2 linked regions of the Homo sapiens genome follow. The protein of the gene in region 1 purifies or fractionates together with the protein of each later gene. This does not show direct contact. Each region holds a gene or a part of one and is shown on either strand. Other genes may lie near its edges.

Region 1 (3,500 bases):
TGAGCCACCGTGCCCGGCCCTATGAGGAATATTTTGAAGAGACTGAAGCAAAATGTGATTTTCTTTCTTTCAGCCATTTTCATCTGAATGGCTAGGCCTTGACCTTCTAAAGCTTCCTCAGATCAATGAGAAAGGCCCCAGCCTGTCCAGACCCTTGGTGACTCAAGTTTGTACCTTCTTGCTGATGTGACCAACAATGGAACATAAGAAACTGCCTGGGGAGGGCAGAGTTGATGGGCAGGGGTGGGGAGGGCTAAAAGACCAGTGGTATAACACCCATTCCTTCTGACTGGGCTGCCCAAGCTCAGTGCAGTCACAAAGAATCACAGAACCCTCTGGTCTCAGTTTCAGAAGAGAGCCATGGATTGGGCTGTATCCTGGACATCATCCTTTAAGTTTATGAGCCTGCAAGGAGGACCTCAGAATGCGTGAGTGCCAAGCATCTGGCCCTCACTGAGCTTCCTTTGGAAAACACACAGATTCAGCTGAAAGGGAACCTGGCCCCCTAAAAACACACTTGAAGAGCAGTGAATGAATTGCAGAAATATCCCAAAGTCTCTGGCTACATGGCCAAATTCTGGGCATGGCCTAGGCCCCTGTGACTGTGGAAGTTCATTTAGTAAAAGCTGCAGCAGTCATCACGAAGCACTGTCACTGGAAGGGCAGACGTGGAGTCAGAATTGAAGGGTGCCAACTGTACTTGGCCCCCAGAAACAGTAATCCAGTGGAACTGAGTTTCCTTGCAGAAGCAAAGCCATCAGAGCCTGCAGGCACTGACTGATGTTGCCACGTTTAGTAGGTCCACATCTCTTTTTCCTAATATAATGAACACGAAAAAGATCACTCCAGCAACTTCCCCCAAATGATCTCAGTAATCCTGACAACACTATATGAGGGAAATCTGATCTTCCTTCTACAATCAGAAGAAACTGGGGGCTGGGAGAATGAAGAAGTCTGCCAAAAGTCAAACTGTGAGGCGGGTGAGAGGAGAAAGTGAGCTTGGAGTATGGGCATCCTGACCCCTGGTCCGAGGCTCTTGTCTTTATAATTACTTATTAAACTCGCAAAACAAAAATTGGTTACCTCAGACCGTGGGCCTGTGGCTCCCAGCTGGAGCCTCAACAGAGGTTGTGCCTGCTTGGGGTGCAGCTGGGGGTGCGGCCTGGTGACAGGCAGGTCTGTGATGTATATGCATGTCTGTGTCCCCAGGCCCATGGAGAGACTGCCTGCAGGCCCTGGAGGATGGCCACGACACCAGCTCCATCTACCTGGTGAAGCCGGAGAACACCAACCGCCTCATGCAGGTGTGGTGCGACCAGAGACACGACCCCGGGGGCTGGACCGTCATCCAGAGACGCCTGGATGGCTCTGTTAACTTCTTCAGGAACTGGGAGACGTACAAGGTGAGACTCGGCAGGGGATGTCTGTGCTGCCCACAAGGTGACTGGCCCACCCCAAGAGAGGCCTGAGCAACCAATAGAAGAGCCCACTCAGAGGTACATGCTGACCAAGCCCAGGCCTGTGCGGCCCCAACAACACATATACCTGAGGCGAGAAGGATGCAGACAGGGCCATTTTGCAAACCCACCAGGGGTAGTGAGGACCAGCGCCTCCTCTGCCTGCTGCTAGAAACTGCTGCAGGACAAGAGTCAGTAGACCAGACCACCACAGCCCCACAGGACAGGGTGAGAGTTTAGAAACGCTGGTATGGGGGCCCAGGGGTGAGGAGCATTTCACTCCCAAGTGGGGTTTCCATGGGGAAAGACCCGCTCTCAAAGCCCAGAAGGCGCAAGTCCCAAGAGGCTCCCAGTTCCTGGGAGAATCCCCCAAAAAGTCCTGGTAGGGAGTTGTGGCAATGCTCAAGTCCTAATTCCAGGCTCATCCTCTGGGCTCCCTGGTTCCCAGGGAGTTGAAATGCTCATCTGTGTAGCAGGGAAAGTTGCCAGGACTCAGTCATACATCGTTCTTCCCCCTCTAAACAGAGGTAGTACTAAGGAAGGCAAGAGTGGCTCTGTTTGCTGAGTGCCCAACCCGTGCCAGCACCATGCTAAGGGCTTTCGTGCATTATTTTGTTTAATCTCGTATCAACCTCCTGAGGGAGGTTCTGTTATGGACCCAGCTTACAGATGAAAGTGTGGAGTAATTTGCTCAGGGTTGCAAAGCCAGGAATTGGCCCAGTAGTGACTGCAGCTGAGGCCTCTGACACTGAAGCTCACAAACTACCTGAAGCCATGATGCCTTGCACACATGGCTCTGCCATGCCCCTTCTTGAGTCTCCTGTCCTGGTTGTCCCCCACCCCACCTCCTGAACAGCCTGTGTCTCTGCTTTTTTCTCCTCTTCCACCTACATTAGGAGCGGGAGACTCCTCCTTTCTTAGAGGCAATACAGTGCAATGATTAAGACTGGGTTCTTGGTTCAAATCCTGGTTCACCCTCAGGCATTCTGAGACCCTGAGCCTCTCTGGGCCTCAGTTCATCCATACTAGGGAGGATAATGATAGCACTTAGTTCTTCGAGTTGACATGAGGATTAGTAAAACAACCTATGTAAAGTTCTTAAAACAGTGCCAGCACATCACAAGCGCTCAATACTAAATAATTATTGTATTAATGAATCACCGATTCCCAAGACTTTAGTGGCCGTAACTCAGCTGCTGACCCCAAAACCACATGCAAAAAAAAACAATAACCACAAAACCACTGGGTTTTAGACCTAGAGGGGAGCGCCGGTGGATGGGACACATGCGTCACAGCTCACACCCGTCTGGTGCGTTACAGCTTACACGTGACCCTCACACACAGCTCATCTCCAGAGAAGGAGGTGAAGCTCAGTGAAGGTCAGAGATTTGTCTGAGGAATGCCTGCTGCGTGCCTACTTAGTGCCAGGCCCTCCACCTGCCACAGCACACGTGTTCCTGCAGCAAGCCTGTGGGGAAGGTAATATAGCCTCCCTGATGTAAGAACAAGGAATCTGGGGTTCACATGATGCCTGGCACAGGGTAGGCACTCTACATATTTTTGAATAATGTGTGAGTCATGGAGAGATTAAGAGGTGGAGTAGGGGTCTGAACCAGGTCTGCTTCATGCTCTGCTTGTTTCCCAGGCCCCTCTATCCAGGGCTGAGTGTCTGACAGCCAAGCCTGCTGGCTGCAGGTGCTGCAGGCTCCACATTAACACTCTCCTGGGTTTTCCCCAGCAAGGGTTTGGGAACATTGACGGCGAATACTGGCTGGGCCTGGAGAACATTTACTGGCTGACGAACCAAGGCAACTACAAACTCCTGGTGACCATGGAGGACTGGTCCGGCCGCAAAGTCTTTGCAGAATACGCCAGTTTCCGCCTGGAACCTGAGAGCGAGTATTATAAGCTGCGGCTGGGGCGCTACCATGGCAATGCGGGTGACTCCTTTACATGGCACAACGGCAAGCAGTTCACCACCCTGGACAGAGATCATGATGTCTACACAGGTAGGAAAAGTGGAGTCAAACCCAGGTGCAGGGT
Region 2 (3,500 bases), on another chromosome or scaffold:
CTTCAGCTAAAGCTAATATTTTCAAGAATTAAGGACACTTGAATTAGAATGACATTTTTAAAACCTAATTTGATTCAATTTTTAAAAGTCTACTTTGGAGTCTGAGGCTGTGATTGCTAATTATGAAAATACCACTGATTTGTGAGAAACTTAAGAGGATATACATTAAACGCTTACTTCCTTAAGGGTTTTTTTTAACATGGTGTATTTTACTTGTATGTATTCTCTGAAAATAAGCTAAATAAGTAAGTTTTAATTCTTTATAAATTAAAAACCATTTTTGGCTAGCCATGATAGCTCATGCCTATAATCCCAGCAGGAGGATTGCCTGAGCCCAGGAGTTTCAGGCCAACCTTGCAACATGGTGAAAACTTCTCTCTACAAAAAAATTTTTTTAAAAAATTAAAAAACTTATCGCTACAAAAAATTTAAAAATTAGCTGGGTGTGGTGGTGGGTGCCTGCTGCCCCTGGTATGTTGAAGGCTGACGTGGGAGGATTGCTTGAGCCCAGGAGGTTGAAGCTGTAATGAGCTATGAGTGCACTACTGCACTCCAGCCTGGATGACGGAAGAAGACCCTGTCTCAAAAAAAAAAAAAAAAAAAAAAAAAAAAAATATATATATATATATATATATAGCTATTTTTGAAATGTAGCATATGTTAAGGATATCATCCAAAAGATCAATTGGTTATATAGAAAGAGTACCAAATTAACTTCCCTAAGATTTGAGTCTATTTATACTCCTGTACCACGTCTAAGAGTGCTTGTTTCCCCAGCTCTTGTCAATATGGTGTATCAAACTTTCTTGGCCAATATGTTACCTGAAAAATAGCACCTTGGCATAGTTATGTTATACTTCTATTACAAGTGATTTTTGGCATCTTGTCATATAAGAATAATTTTATTTCCTTTCTGTGAGGTATCTATATCCTTTGGCTATTTTTTCTTGGGCAGGGGAGGGGTGATTCTTGGTCTTTTTATTGATTCTTGGGGCTTTTTACATTTTTAGGAAAAATTAGTTTTAAATGTGAAAAACACAATGTGGCACCATATAGCAAATAATAAATACCTGTTGAACTGAAAAGAACTACATGCTATAGGGAGTAAGCGCTAATGCAGAGGCATGCACTGGATTCTCAAGGAACACCTGCAAACTTGGGGGCAGGTAAATCCTGAAGGACAAGGAGTTGTCTACATAACTTATGATTACAGCCACATGAATTTTAAAGATATCCTCAACATTTCATCTTTAGAATATGTGATTTATTTTTTACAGGCCCATGAAGTGATAGATGTGATTATGCATTTTAAAGCATCTAATTGTGTCGATTTCCATTTTTTCCCTGGCTACTCATAACACTGTTTGCCTGATGCCTCATCATTTAAAAAAACTATGAATCTTATCCAACTCATAAAATGATTACCAAGCCAAACATAAGGGATATGAAGCCAAACTAAAAAAAGTCACAGTAAATTGTTTCAGAAACTAAGCTGTTTTGTTAGGTTGAAGAGCTAATAAACTAAGTCTGGGTTGGCAAACATTTTCTATCAAGAGTCAGACAGCAAATATTTTAGGCTTTGCAGGCCACATAAAGTCTCAGCCACATATTATTTGTTTCTTTTTTACTCTTTCAAAACCTAAAAACAATCCTTAGCTCATGGATATAAAAAAGGCCATGAACTGGACTTGGCCCAGGGTAGAGTTTGCTGACCCCTTATATTAAGTGGTGCACCAAAATTAAAATGCTTTTTGTTCTGTTTATCCACACAGCCCTTACTTGTACATAATCTATTCCAGGACTTTCATTTGTGGCTGGTCCAACAGCCCCGTCAGCACATAACTTTTCACCCAGACAAAATTTCTTCCAGCCTTCTTCATCTTCAGATTTTGGCTAAAAGAAAAAAAAAAAAACTGATTTATTCCTGTGTATTAATTTTTACACTGAACAGTAAAAAAAAAGAAGTTAAGTCCTTCCATATTCCCATTACCGCAACCCAAAGATACGGAGCCAGTTATGGGGAGAATCTCTGCCCCCAAATTTGTATGTTAAAACCTTAAACTCCAGTACCTCAGAATGTGACTGTATTTGGAGACAGGGCCTTTAAAGAAGTGATTAATTTAAATTGAGGCCATTAGGGTGAGCCGTAATCCAATCTTACTAGTGTCCTTATAAGAGGAAATTTGGATTCACAAAGAGACACCAGGGACTCCCACACACAGAGGAAAGACCACGTGAGAAAACAGGGAGAAGGTGGCCCTATGCAAGCCAAGGAGAAAAGCCTCAGAAGAGACCAACCTTAGGCCGGGTGCGGTGGTTCACGCCTGTAATCCCAGCACTTTGGGAGGCCGAGGCAGGCGATCACATGAAGTCAGGAGTTCAAGACCAGCCTGGCCAACATGGCAAAACCCCACCTCTACTAAAAATACAAAAAAAAAAAAAATTAGCCGGATGTGGTGGTGCACACCTGTAATCCCAGCTACCCAGAGGCTGAGGCAGGAGAATCACTCGAGCCTGGGAGGCGGAGGCTGCAGTGAGCAGAGATTGCGTCATTGCACTCTAGCCTGGGCAACAAGAGCGAAACTCTGCCTCAAAAAACAAACAAACAAACAAAAAGAGACCAACCTTGCTGCCACCTTGTTCTTTGACTTTCAGCCTTCAAGACTGAGAAAATAAATACATTTCTGTTGTTTAATCCACCTAGTCTGTTATGGCAGCCCTGACAAACATAGTGCCTAAGTGGCTACACAATATGTGGGACATGTTGTTTTTCCTTATTATTACATTTTTTGAGACAGGGTCTTGCTCTGTCGCCCAAGTTGGAGTGCAGAGGTGTGATTACAGTTCATTGCAGCCTGAATCTCGGGCTCAAATAATTCTGCCACCTCAGCCTCTTGAGTAGCTGGGACTACAGGCATGTGCCACCATGCCTGATAATTTTTAAATTTTTTTTGTAGAGATAGTTGTCTCACTATGTTGCCCAGGCTGGTCTCAAACTCCTGGCCTCAAGCAATTCTTCTGCTTTGGCTTCCCAAAGTGCTGGGATTACAAGTGTGAGCCACTGTGCCCAGCCAAGATGTGTTTAGTTTGGACAAGACTTTAGTGGACACTGACAGACAATGGTGTGTCCAAAAGAGGATGATAAAGACAGAAATAAGTATGGGGGAAAAAATGCACCAAGAACACTTAATAGAATGAAGGATATTTATCCCATGTAAAGAGACATGATTACATATTTCACATATTTGAAGGGTTGTCCAGTCAAAGAAGAAACAGATCTACTCATGCTGCCAGACAGAAAAAGCAGGACGCAGGACTATTTGGGAGAAGCATTCAGCTCAATATAACCTCCTTAACAAAATAACCTTTGTTTGTACATATCACCTTGTATATTACTTTGCATAGGTGCATTTTCCCCCTAGGGATAAGTAGCTTTCATTAAATCCTTAGGATGAATCACCTGAGGTCAGGAGTTCGAGACTAGCCTGGAAATATGGTGA

Evidence for each region. Proteins that work in one complex are often made in the same cells at the same time.
Region 2: the proteins of ANGPTL2 (region 1) and GEMIN2 purify together in Homo sapiens (co-immunoprecipitation; one large-scale study listed by IntAct). This does not show direct contact.

What each region holds. Positions count from the first base shown.
Region 1 is NC_000009.12:127,091,636-127,095,135, reverse strand, and holds part of ANGPTL2 (angiopoietin-related protein 2 precursor), read left to right. Parts: intron 1-1,209; coding exon 1,210-1,403; intron 1,404-3,195; coding exon 3,196-3,466; intron 3,467-3,500. UniProt on the Homo sapiens protein: Induces sprouting in endothelial cells through an autocrine and paracrine action.
Region 2 is NC_000014.9:39,120,823-39,124,322, reverse strand, and holds part of GEMIN2 (gem-associated protein 2), read right to left. Parts: intron 1,894-3,500; coding exon 1,780-1,893; intron 1-1,779. UniProt on the Homo sapiens protein: The SMN complex catalyzes the assembly of small nuclear ribonucleoproteins (snRNPs), the building blocks of the spliceosome, and thereby plays an important role in the splicing of cellular pre-mRNAs.